Homo sapiens: one gene and its partner. The protein of the gene in region 2 interacts with the protein of the main gene of each other region in a pairwise test. Each region holds a gene or a part of one and is shown on either strand. Other genes may lie near its edges.

Evidence for each region.
Region 1: the proteins of NINL (region 2) and ZFHX3 interact in a two-hybrid assay, tested with the Homo sapiens proteins (one large-scale study listed by BioGRID).

What each region holds. Positions count from the first base shown.
Region 1 is NC_000016.10:72,782,385-72,787,069, reverse strand, and holds the end of ZFHX3 (zinc finger homeobox protein 3), read left to right. Parts: 3' UTR 1-4,185; downstream 4,186-4,685.
Region 2 is NC_000020.11:25,474,032-25,479,414, forward strand, and holds part of NINL (ninein-like protein), read right to left. Parts: intron 5,176-5,383; coding exon 4,892-5,175; intron 4,365-4,891; coding exon of another isoform or gene 4,164-4,364; intron 3,059-4,163; coding exon 2,012-3,058; intron 1-2,011. UniProt on the Homo sapiens protein: Involved in the microtubule organization in interphase cells. Overexpression induces the fragmentation of the Golgi, and causes lysosomes to disperse toward the cell periphery; it also interferes with mitotic spindle assembly.

The DNA.
Region 1 (4,685 bases), on a different chromosome or scaffold from region 2:
CTAACCAAAAAACAAAAAAAAAAAAAAAAAGAAAAAAAAGAAAAAGCGTGGGTTGTTTTCCCATATACCTATCTATGCCGGTGATTTTACATTCTTGTCTTTTTCTTTTCTTTTAATATTAAAAAAAAAAAAAAAGCCCTAACCCTGTTACATTGTGTCCTTTTGAAGGTACTATTGGTCTGGGAAACAGAAGTCCGCAGGGCCTCCCTAATGTCTTTGGAGCTTAAACCCCTTGTATATTTGCCCCTTTTCAATAAACGCCCCACGCTGATAGCACAGAGGAGCCCGGCATGCACTGTATGGGAAAGCAGTCCACCTTGTTACAGTTTTAAATTTCTTGCTATCTTAGCATTCAGATACCAATGGCTTGCTAAAAGAAAAAAAGAAATGTAATGTCTTTTTATTCTCAGGTCAATCGCTCACACTTTGTTTTCAGAATCATTGTTTTATATATTATTGTTTTTTCAGTTTTTTTTTTTTTTTTTGTTCCAGAAAAGATTTTTTGTTTTGTTAACTTAAAAATGGGCAGAAAGTATTCAAGAAAAACAATGTGAACTGCTTTAGCTTTCTGGGGATTTTTAAGGATAGCTTTTCTGCTGAAGCCAATTTCAAGGGGAAAAGTTAAGCACTCCCACTTTCAAAAAAAAAAAAAAATAATAACCCACACACACAAAGAGTGTTGAGGACTTGTAGCTTAAAAAAAATAAGTTTTAAAAACTGACTTTCTGTATTTATGATAGATATGACCATTTTTGGTGTTGAGTAGATTGTTGCATTGGAAATGAACTGAAGCAGTATGGTAGATTTAAAAGGAAAAAAAAAAAAAAACCTTTTGTGTACATTTAGCTTTTTGTATGGTCCAGCTGACAGCTCCTCATTTGATGTTGTCTTGTTCATTCCTAGCAGATGATAGATTGCAATCCGTTGATTCGCCTAAGCTTTTCTCCCCTTGTCCCTTAATTCCACTTTCTCTTTCTTGTCCCTTAATTCCACTTTCTCTTTCCTTCTCCCACCTCCCGTCCTATAATCTCCCACTTAAGGTAGCTGCCTTCATTTCTTAGAGGGAGCTGCAGAATTATTTTATAAAACTAAAGAAAGAATTTCAAGGGATTCTAGGGGTCATTAGGATCCTCACAGATTATTTTTGGTTGGGGAGTTGAAACTTTTTAAAGGCATATAATTCTAGTTACCTGTGTCTGTTAGCTTTGTGCATTTATTTTTTATTTATCCTTCTTTTGGCTTTTTTTTCTTTGTACCCCTTCTTTTCCTCCTTGTTTGGTAGGAGCTTCAAATATTCTTTTTTTTTCTATACTAAAGGATTTGTTTCCATTTGTGTAATTGGCTGTGTACTTTTCTTTTCTAAAAAAAGTTTTTGGTTAGGGATTTGGTTTTTGGTTTTGTGTTTGTTTTTTCTTTCCTCTCTCAGAAAAAAAAATTTCATGCTTTAAATAAAATCCAAAGACACACCCTTTCACTGCTGATGCAGAAAAAAGGGAAAGGGTTCTTGTTACTTGAGAATTTGTTTCTGATTTAAACAAACAAGACTTAGTTTAATAAAAGAAAGAGAAAAACAAAAGATTCCCAGGTTGTTATGTGCTTCTTCTGCAAGCAGAGAGGCAAATGTTAATGACAATTCCATATACCAAAAGACACATTTTTTACTTCAAAGTTTTGTCCTTGTGTTAGGCAGTCTGAGCAGCGAGTGATCCAGAGCGCAGCCAACAAAGCAGCAGATAGCAGTGTACAGAAAGCAAAAAAGGAACTGTATGTGAGGCACTTGTTTCTGTTAATATCCATATTCCTGTTAACACACACCCTTTCTCATGTAAAAAGAAAAATAAATAAATGGTCTGAACTTTGAAAACTTTGTGCTGCTAAAACATAGATTTTGGAGACAAATAAATAGATGCTTTGCTGTTTCACTTTCATAGCTAAACATCAACAGAAACCATCTCCCCTTGCCCCCAAAGTGTGAAATCCTTCTTCCCTTCGTTTTCTTCCTTATGTTTCAAAAGGGAACTTTGAAGACTGTGAATACAGGTTCCATTGGTCACCTTTCGGGCTTCTTTCCCCAGTGCTGAAGCCACTCATCGACTTTGCAAAAGACTGGAGCATTCCAAGATCTGAAAATGGATTTTTTTTCTTTTTTTCTTTTTTAGCCGGGACTATTTTATTTTTATGAATTTGTTTTTAGTTTAATGAAATAGTAGATCCTGAAATGTTGTACATATTTCTAACTAGGCTGATGCACAGTGCAAATTCCTTTTTTAATTGTTTTTTTTAAGTAGAAATACTAAAGAAAGAATACCATCTAACTATTCATACCAGTATCCAGTTGTAGCATAAGGTGTCAAAAGCAAGTACGCAAAACATTTACTGTTTTAACAAGCTATTTCCTTTTAACAAGAAATCTTGTATTTCTTCCTGTGTTTGAGATGAACATTTTTAAATTTTAAAGTTGTACAGTTTTTTGTTTTCCATTATTTTATCTTGTTTGTAACTCTATGAAATATATATATATATATTTTTTGCCATTTAACTGTTGTATGTTACTCTGTGTCTGTACCATATAGAAAAAAAATTGTTTTTGTTTTTGGTTCTCTATGTGATATCAGTTAACAATGTAACACTAGCTTTACCTGTCAAATTCTGCTAGGTCTTCTCTGAAAACGTTGTTTTTAAAAATGATATTGCTTGGTAATAGTGCAATTTCTATCCTTTTCCCTCCCCCCTCAACTTTTAAGTTCTTTTCTTTATAATTTTGCTGCCCCCTCCCTGATGGTTTGGGTTTTTGTTTTTGTTTTTGTTTTTTTTTTTCATGGAGCTACTATGCCATCCTCCCTCTGTGAGGCAGAGTGACTGTCAGTGTTTTGTTATGCCATGCCTTGAGCTGTGGGTGTTTGGCGACAATAAGGTGGTTGAATAGATTGGCTGAGCACACTTCCACCCACCTAGTGTTCTCAGAGGGGTTATGTGATTGTTTCAACCTGGAGTGGGTTGCACCCTTAATGCTTTCCTCTGCAACTAAACCGCCCACATATATGTTCATTGAAAAAAGTAAGAATAATTCTCAGCACTAACCCAGAAGTAGCAAAGCAGTCAGTGATGGTGAACATTAGAGGTCAAACATGAGTTAGATGTTTGTGGGCTGACAGCCATCGTGGCTATGACCAGTACTATTTACAAAGCATGAATTCACTACAATGCTCAACTGTTTGTTTAGCTTTATCTCACTTGGGGAATTTATTCCTGTCTGCTGCATTGTAGGTAGCTGGGTAGGATATATTTCCACTTGCTTTTTAAATTAGTTCTTCACCTCCATTGACACTCGTTTTTTGGTTTTCTCCCTATAGTGTGGGTTGGTGCTAGACACCAGTCTGACCCACAGAATGGGAGTTATTTCATCCATCTTTCCTCCATCCTTCCAAAAACCACATATCTACACAAGGAAAAATTTAATACATCTAGGAATTTTTTTTTTAATTACAAGCTATTTAAAGAGATGAATGTGGCCAAAGTTTTACACAATTGAAAATAAAGTAAAACAGACGGCATGTGTTTAAACCTGAGTTTATCAGGCATGGCAGGAAGTTGCAGGAGAGAGAGGCAGTGACCCAAGCCAGTGCACTTGATGTTCATGGACATATATTTTTTTTAAATAATAAATTAAAACATTTTAAATAGAAGCATAAATTGAGTTGTTTGTTGGCGCTGAGATACTGCCCACTGTGAAACAAAGCTTTGACTAGTTTTTTGTTTGTTTACTTTCTTCAGGGGGGAGGGGGGCAAGTTTGGGTAGGAAAGAAAGCATAAATGAACGTGACCCTGAGGTGAAGAGGTATATGAACAGCCTTTGCAATGTACAAAAAGAAAAAAAAACAAAAAACAACAAAAAAAATAGAGCAAGTGAAACCAAAAATGATGTTCTTGGTGTTTTTCTATAATGTAGTCTTGTTAGCTTTTTTGTTACTGTAACAATGCTGATCTCGAACTGTACCAAAATACATGGAGACTAACAAACAGAACCACATGGAACTTTCAAACTGAAAAAAAAATTTGTCACAAAAACTTTGTTGTCATAGTTAAGTTGATTGTAGATGGTAATTGAATATACTCCTTTGAAAATATTTCATCAAGTATGTTTCCTGCTCATTGTGATACATTAAAAAAAAAATATGAGCAAAAGCTCCTGTCTCTGTTACCACATTTGTGCACATGCATGTGTGTGTGCAGGAGAGAGAGGCTGATGGCTGGCAAAGTATAAATGTGAATACCTTGAGGTTGTGTGTGCAGGGAGTACTTATCCCAAGGTACAAAAGGATGTACACGAGCCCTTTAGTGTTTCTAAAGACGCTTGTATTTCCCATCTCCTGGGGCTCATGAATGTCAGAAGTTTGGGCCATGATGCCGTCTGCGTTTCTTCATTGGGAGGGGTGAGTCTGATATCTTGGACGATATTTGGCCCTAGAGTGCCCTAATAGCAACTAGATTTTTAATTCAAATATTTATATGAAAGTTTTTGATGCTTGACACAATTGCAGGCAAAAAAGTTTTACTGATTGATAGCCATGAGAAAGGTAGGTTCAACTTTTTTGAAATGGGAATTGGATCTAGTGTTTATGACAGAAAGATATGAACGGTAAGTTGAACTAATGGATAACTGACTACATTTACCTGTCCTAGCA
Region 2 (5,383 bases):
CACAGCAGGGGGAATGAAGGCTGCTCGTTCTCTGACTGTAGATTATTCTGGATTCTCCAGAGGAACCCAACGTAATCACAAGTGTCCTTAGAGGTAGAAAGTGGAGGCAGAAGAGTCAGTGTTGGAGTAAGGTGACATGAGGAGGACTCGGCCATCCAGGGCTGGCTTCCAGGATGGAAGGACGCCTCAAGTCAAGGCCACTGGAGAAGGTGAGGCAGGGAGCTCCCCTCGGGGCCTCTGGATGGCCCTGCAGCCCTGCCAGCACCTCATTCCTAGCCCAAGGAGACCCTTTCCTCTTCCAACCTCTAAAACTAAAACATCGCACTTTTGTGCCTTGTTAAGCCACCAAGTCCGTGGAAATGCACACGAAGGAAGAACAGACGGACCAAGGGCCAACCATGCAGTGTCAGCAACCGGGTCTCTGACACGGACAGCAGACATTCCAAGGGTGGAGAGGCGGCCATTTAATGGCTAGATGTGCGTTCCTAAGAATACTGTCTTACAAAAATGAAGGAACATTTAAGATACTTTTCAGATAAGCAAAAACAGGAAATTTACTCTAAACAGAGTTTCACTAAAGGAACTTTTTTTTTTTTTGAGATGGAATCTTGCTCTGTCACCCAGGCTGGAGTGCAGTGAGTGGTGTGATCTCGGCTCACTGAAACCTCTGCCTCTCAGGTTCAAGCGATTCTCCTGCCTCAGCCTCCCAAGTAGCTGGGACTACAAGCGCATGCCACCATGCCCGGCTAATTTTTGTATTTTTTTTTTTTGGAGACAGAGTTTCGCTCTTGTTGCCCAGGCTGAAGTGCAGTGGCGCGATCTCAAAACTCACTGCAACTTCCACCTCCTGGGTTCAAGCGATTCTCCTGCCTTAGCCTCCCGAGTAGCTGGGATTACAGGCGCACGCCACCACACTAATTTTTGTATTTTTAGTAGAGATGGGGTTTCACCACGCTGGCCAGGCTGGTCTTGAACTCCTGACCTCAGGTGATCCACCCACCTTGGCCTCCCAAAGTGCTGAGATTACAGGCATGAACCACCGTGCCCTAGTTGTTACGAGGTTTTAAATTCCTGATTCCTGGTGGTGCACGCCTGTAATCCCAGCTACTCAGGAGGCTGAGGCAGGAGAATCGCTTGAACCTGGGAGGCAGAGGTTGCAGTGAGCCCAGACAGCACCACTGCACTCCAGCCTGGGCCACACAGCGAGACTCTGTCTCAAAAAAAACAAAAAACAAAAAACAAAAAAACCTCCTAACAAAGCCCAGGAGCTGATGGCTTCACTGGTGAATTCTACCACTTAAAAAAGAACTTCCACCACCTCTTCTCAAACTCTTCCAAGAATTGAAGAGAAGGGAACACTTCCAAACTCATTCTATGAGGCATTACTTGATACCAAAGCCAGACAAGGACACTACAGTCCAGAAAAGAAAACTGCAGACCAATCCCTTATGATGCAAAAATTGATGCTAAAATCCTCAACAAAATACTAGCAAAAGTTATTGTTTAATGGGTATACAGCCTCTTCTGGGAACAACAATGAAAAATCTTTGGAAGCGAGGGCCGGGCGCAGTGGCTCACGCCTGTAATCCCAGCACTTTGTGAGGCCAAGGCGGGCAGATCACCTTTGAGGACAGCCTGGCTAACATGGTGAAACCCCGTCTCTACTAAAAATACAAAAATTAGTCAGGCGTGGTGGCAGGTGCCTGTAATCCCAGCTACTTGGGAGGCTGATGCACAAGAATATCTTGAACCCGGAAGGTGGGTTCAGGACCCCGAAAGGCAGTCCTGCCCTCCCTCTGCCCAGTGGTAGAGCACCAGATGACCGTGGCATTCCGGGACGGGGCTGGGCTCACAACCCCTACTCAGGCTGAAGGGCTACACAGCCCCCATCAGGGGCTGCGAGCTTGTCGGCAGGAAGGGCCACATAGCACCATTAGCAACAGGGGTCAGTGGGTTAGTTCTGCATTTTTAGTTTGAAGTGTTTAGTTTTAAGAATGAGTAGAAGGCAAACCTGTCGTTCTCTCTCAAATCTACATGTTTCTCCAGAGCCCGGACGACGTCTTCCAGATGTAGAAGTTTGGTTTCCATGTCATCCTTCTCTCTCTCCAGCGCTATTTTGGTCTCCCCCTCTTCTGGGGCAGCAAGCTGCTCCTGCCAGGAACCCTGCGGGTCTGCGAGCTGGAGGTGGGATGGCAAGGACCCTCTCCTGGCAACCTCCACACTGTGCTTGTGACACCCAGGCTCCAGGGCGCCCTCGGCCCGGGCCTGCTGCTCCGAGGCCTGCTCCTGGGTGCCCCTGCTCCAGCTTCGTGCTCGCTCTTCCTGAATGGCCTGTAGCCTCTCAGCCTGTCCCCTGCACGAAGCGGCCGGCCTCAGGGGTGGCTCCCACATCCGTGGCTGGGTTTGCGAGGCGTCTCTCTCTGTTCCCAGCAGAGGCAGCTCCCGGGCTCCAGGCTGCTCCAGCCCCGCTGCGCTCGCGCCGAAAGGCTCTGGCTCCTTTGGGACAATATCCCCATCCACTCCACAGGGCTGCATGCGTGACCACCTCTCTGAGGGGCCGTGGGATGCCGGGGCAGGGGCGGGGGCCGGGCTCTGCGTAGCTTCTGTGTCCTGGGCTTGCCTGCGGCGAGGCCCGGCTCCTGCCGCCTCCTCAGACTCTCTGCCATCACCTGGGGCCAGCCAGGCCAGTGGCCGCTCCCCACAGCCCGGACGCAGTGGTAGGAGGCCACGTGTGCCCTCCTGGCCACTTCCTGCCACCAGCCCATCTTTCGGCAGGGCCTGCATCTCTGCTTCCAGGGAGGGCCCGTCCACTCGCTTCCCGCGGGCAAGCTCCAACTCCTCCTCCTCGAGGGCCAACGATACGCACATCTGGGCGCGCTTCTCGCTCGCACAGGGCTGCAGCTTCAGTGCCCTCTCCAGCTCCAGCTGCTCCGACCTCTGGCTCCCGCGTGGCAGGGGTCCCTGCGGCGGCTCCTCCAGCTCCAAGGTCAGGTCTCTGCGAGCGGGCAGGGCTCCCAGCCCCGACAGCTCTCCACTCAGCTCCGCCTCAGCCTCTCTCCTGTGGAAGTAGAACCGTCACACACCACAGCCCTGCCGCCCCCAGCCCCTCTCTCGGGTTTGAAGTCTGCCCAGCTGTTGCAACGGCTGCGACCTCCTCTCTGTGGTTGGCTTTCTTTATCCCTCCTCGCCTCCCTCAGCCCTGGCTTCAACCTATACCCTGGGCCCTACTTCAGAGTCCAGACGAGGATCCGCCCCACGGAGCGAGGTTCTGCACATGGAAGCCCAAGCACGAACCCTTTCCATGTGGAGTGTTCACATGGAAGATGGCCGCCACCATGCAGGACCTGGTTGCAGCCCCTCGGCCGTGCAGGCCACGTTCCAAGCCCTCAAGGCTCCCAACTGGACAGGGCAGACATACGACGTGGCCCACACTGCAGTGGGTTCTACACGATAGCGCTGGAGACCCAGAGCCAAAACTGTCCCCTAATTCCCTGAAGCTGCTGGGCCTTGGGACCTCTGGTGGCCCGCAGGAGAGTCCAGTGGAAGTGAAGTGAGAGCTGGCAAGACCACAGCACCAGAAGGGGTATGTGGTCCATGCCTGGCCAGGGCAAGGGGAGCAAGGAAGTGGTTGGAGGGCCTCCACCTCCAAGCATTGGCAGATCGGGAGCCCTGCAGAGCGGGGACAGCAGCTCCCCAGGAGCAGGCTGCTAGAGACAGCTCCGGGTGGGGGCCAGGTGCACAAGGGCCTGGATGCTGAGAGGAGAGGGGCTGCTTGTGCCTGCCCCTCTGTTCCCACTGGGGTCTGCAGGGACTCTGACCCAATCTCTTACCACACGCTCTTGGCTTTAAGGGGAAATAGCTGAAAGCCTGGGGAGGCACAGGATGGACAGACGACTTTTTTTTTTTTTTGAGACGAGTCTCACTTTTTTTTTTTTTTAGACGAGTCTCACTTTGTGGCTCAGGCTGGAGTGCAATGGCGAGATCTCGGCTCACTGCAACCTCCGCCTCCTGAATTCAAGTGATTCTCCTGCCTCAGCTTCCCGAGTAGCTGGGATTACAGGCGCCTGCTACCATGCTCAGCTAATTTTTTGTGTTTTTAGTAGAGACAGGGTTTCACCATGTTGGCCAGGCTGGTCTCGAACTCCTGAGCTCAAGTGATTTACCCGCCTTGGCCTCCCAAAGTGCTGATTACAGGTGTGAGCCACCGCATCCGGCCGGAAAGATGACTTTCTGTCAGGCTGGGGGTGGCCTGGCCAGTGTGGTGGGAGGGCCCGTCCTCTTCTAAGCCGGGGCCAATGCTCTCCACAGGACAGTGGGTGCCAGCTGAGCAGCAGCCTGTCTGCGATGACCAGGCACTTCCTCTCCTACCTCAGATGCCCCCAACAAGAACAGACGTGGTCACTTCACATGTACCTCACACCAGAACACATAAAACACCAGCACAGGCTTTCTGTAAGCCTTCTCTCTCGCTTGCACACTTGAGCCTTTTTGGGAACCTCACTAACCCCAGCTGGCCATCTTTCCCATTGTTCAGGGCTTCAGGCCTTTCTCCATCTCCCCACATGCTACCCTGCCTGGCCCTGGAGAAGCGGGTGTCTCTGAGCGATGGAGGCAATGTTGCTGCCGGGCACGGCTGAGGCAGAGGGTACAGAACACTGGGCTGTTTCTACACAGTGAACAGCTTCATGGCCCATGATCCAATGTATATTTTAAATTCAGAGCCAGAATCCTCATGCCAGGACCTGTTCTTTTGGCACTCACCCATCTGCCCAGAGGAAAACCACCCAGTCGGGAGGCACAGCAATTCTGAGTTGTTTCCTAAGTCTAATTTCAAATTTTGGTTCTTGGCAAGAAACCCCAGACTTGAAATCTCAAAAGAAGCTGGCTGGACCTGATCTGCTGCAGGTGGCTGTGATGCCGCAGGGCCAGGCCACACAGTGCCTGGGTGCAGCAGGGTGCCAGGCCCATCTGCTCAGGCTCGGGGCCGCGGGCTGTGTCCTGCAGCTGCTCCTGCAGGCCCCAGATGACCTCCTGAGACTTCTCGTGGAGCTCCTCCAGGTCGGCCTTCTGACCCTCCAGCACGCTGACCTCGCGCCTGCGAGCCTGCTCCATGTCCTTCCTCTCCTTCTCAAAGTTCCTTTTCAGTGCCGCAATTTCCCTTTCGTAGTAATTTACCTAAAACGAGAAACATGAGCCCCGTGGACCAGGAGACCCTAAGAATGATCTTGCTGCTGACGTAACACAGAAACACGAAGCTGCCTGGCACAACGTGCAAAGACCGGCATCCTGGCCTGCCGAGGTGCCAGGGTGTGCAGAAGGGGACAGTGACATGAATGTTGGTGGTGCTCCCCAGGGCCTAGTGAGGTGTGAGTCACCTATCCCC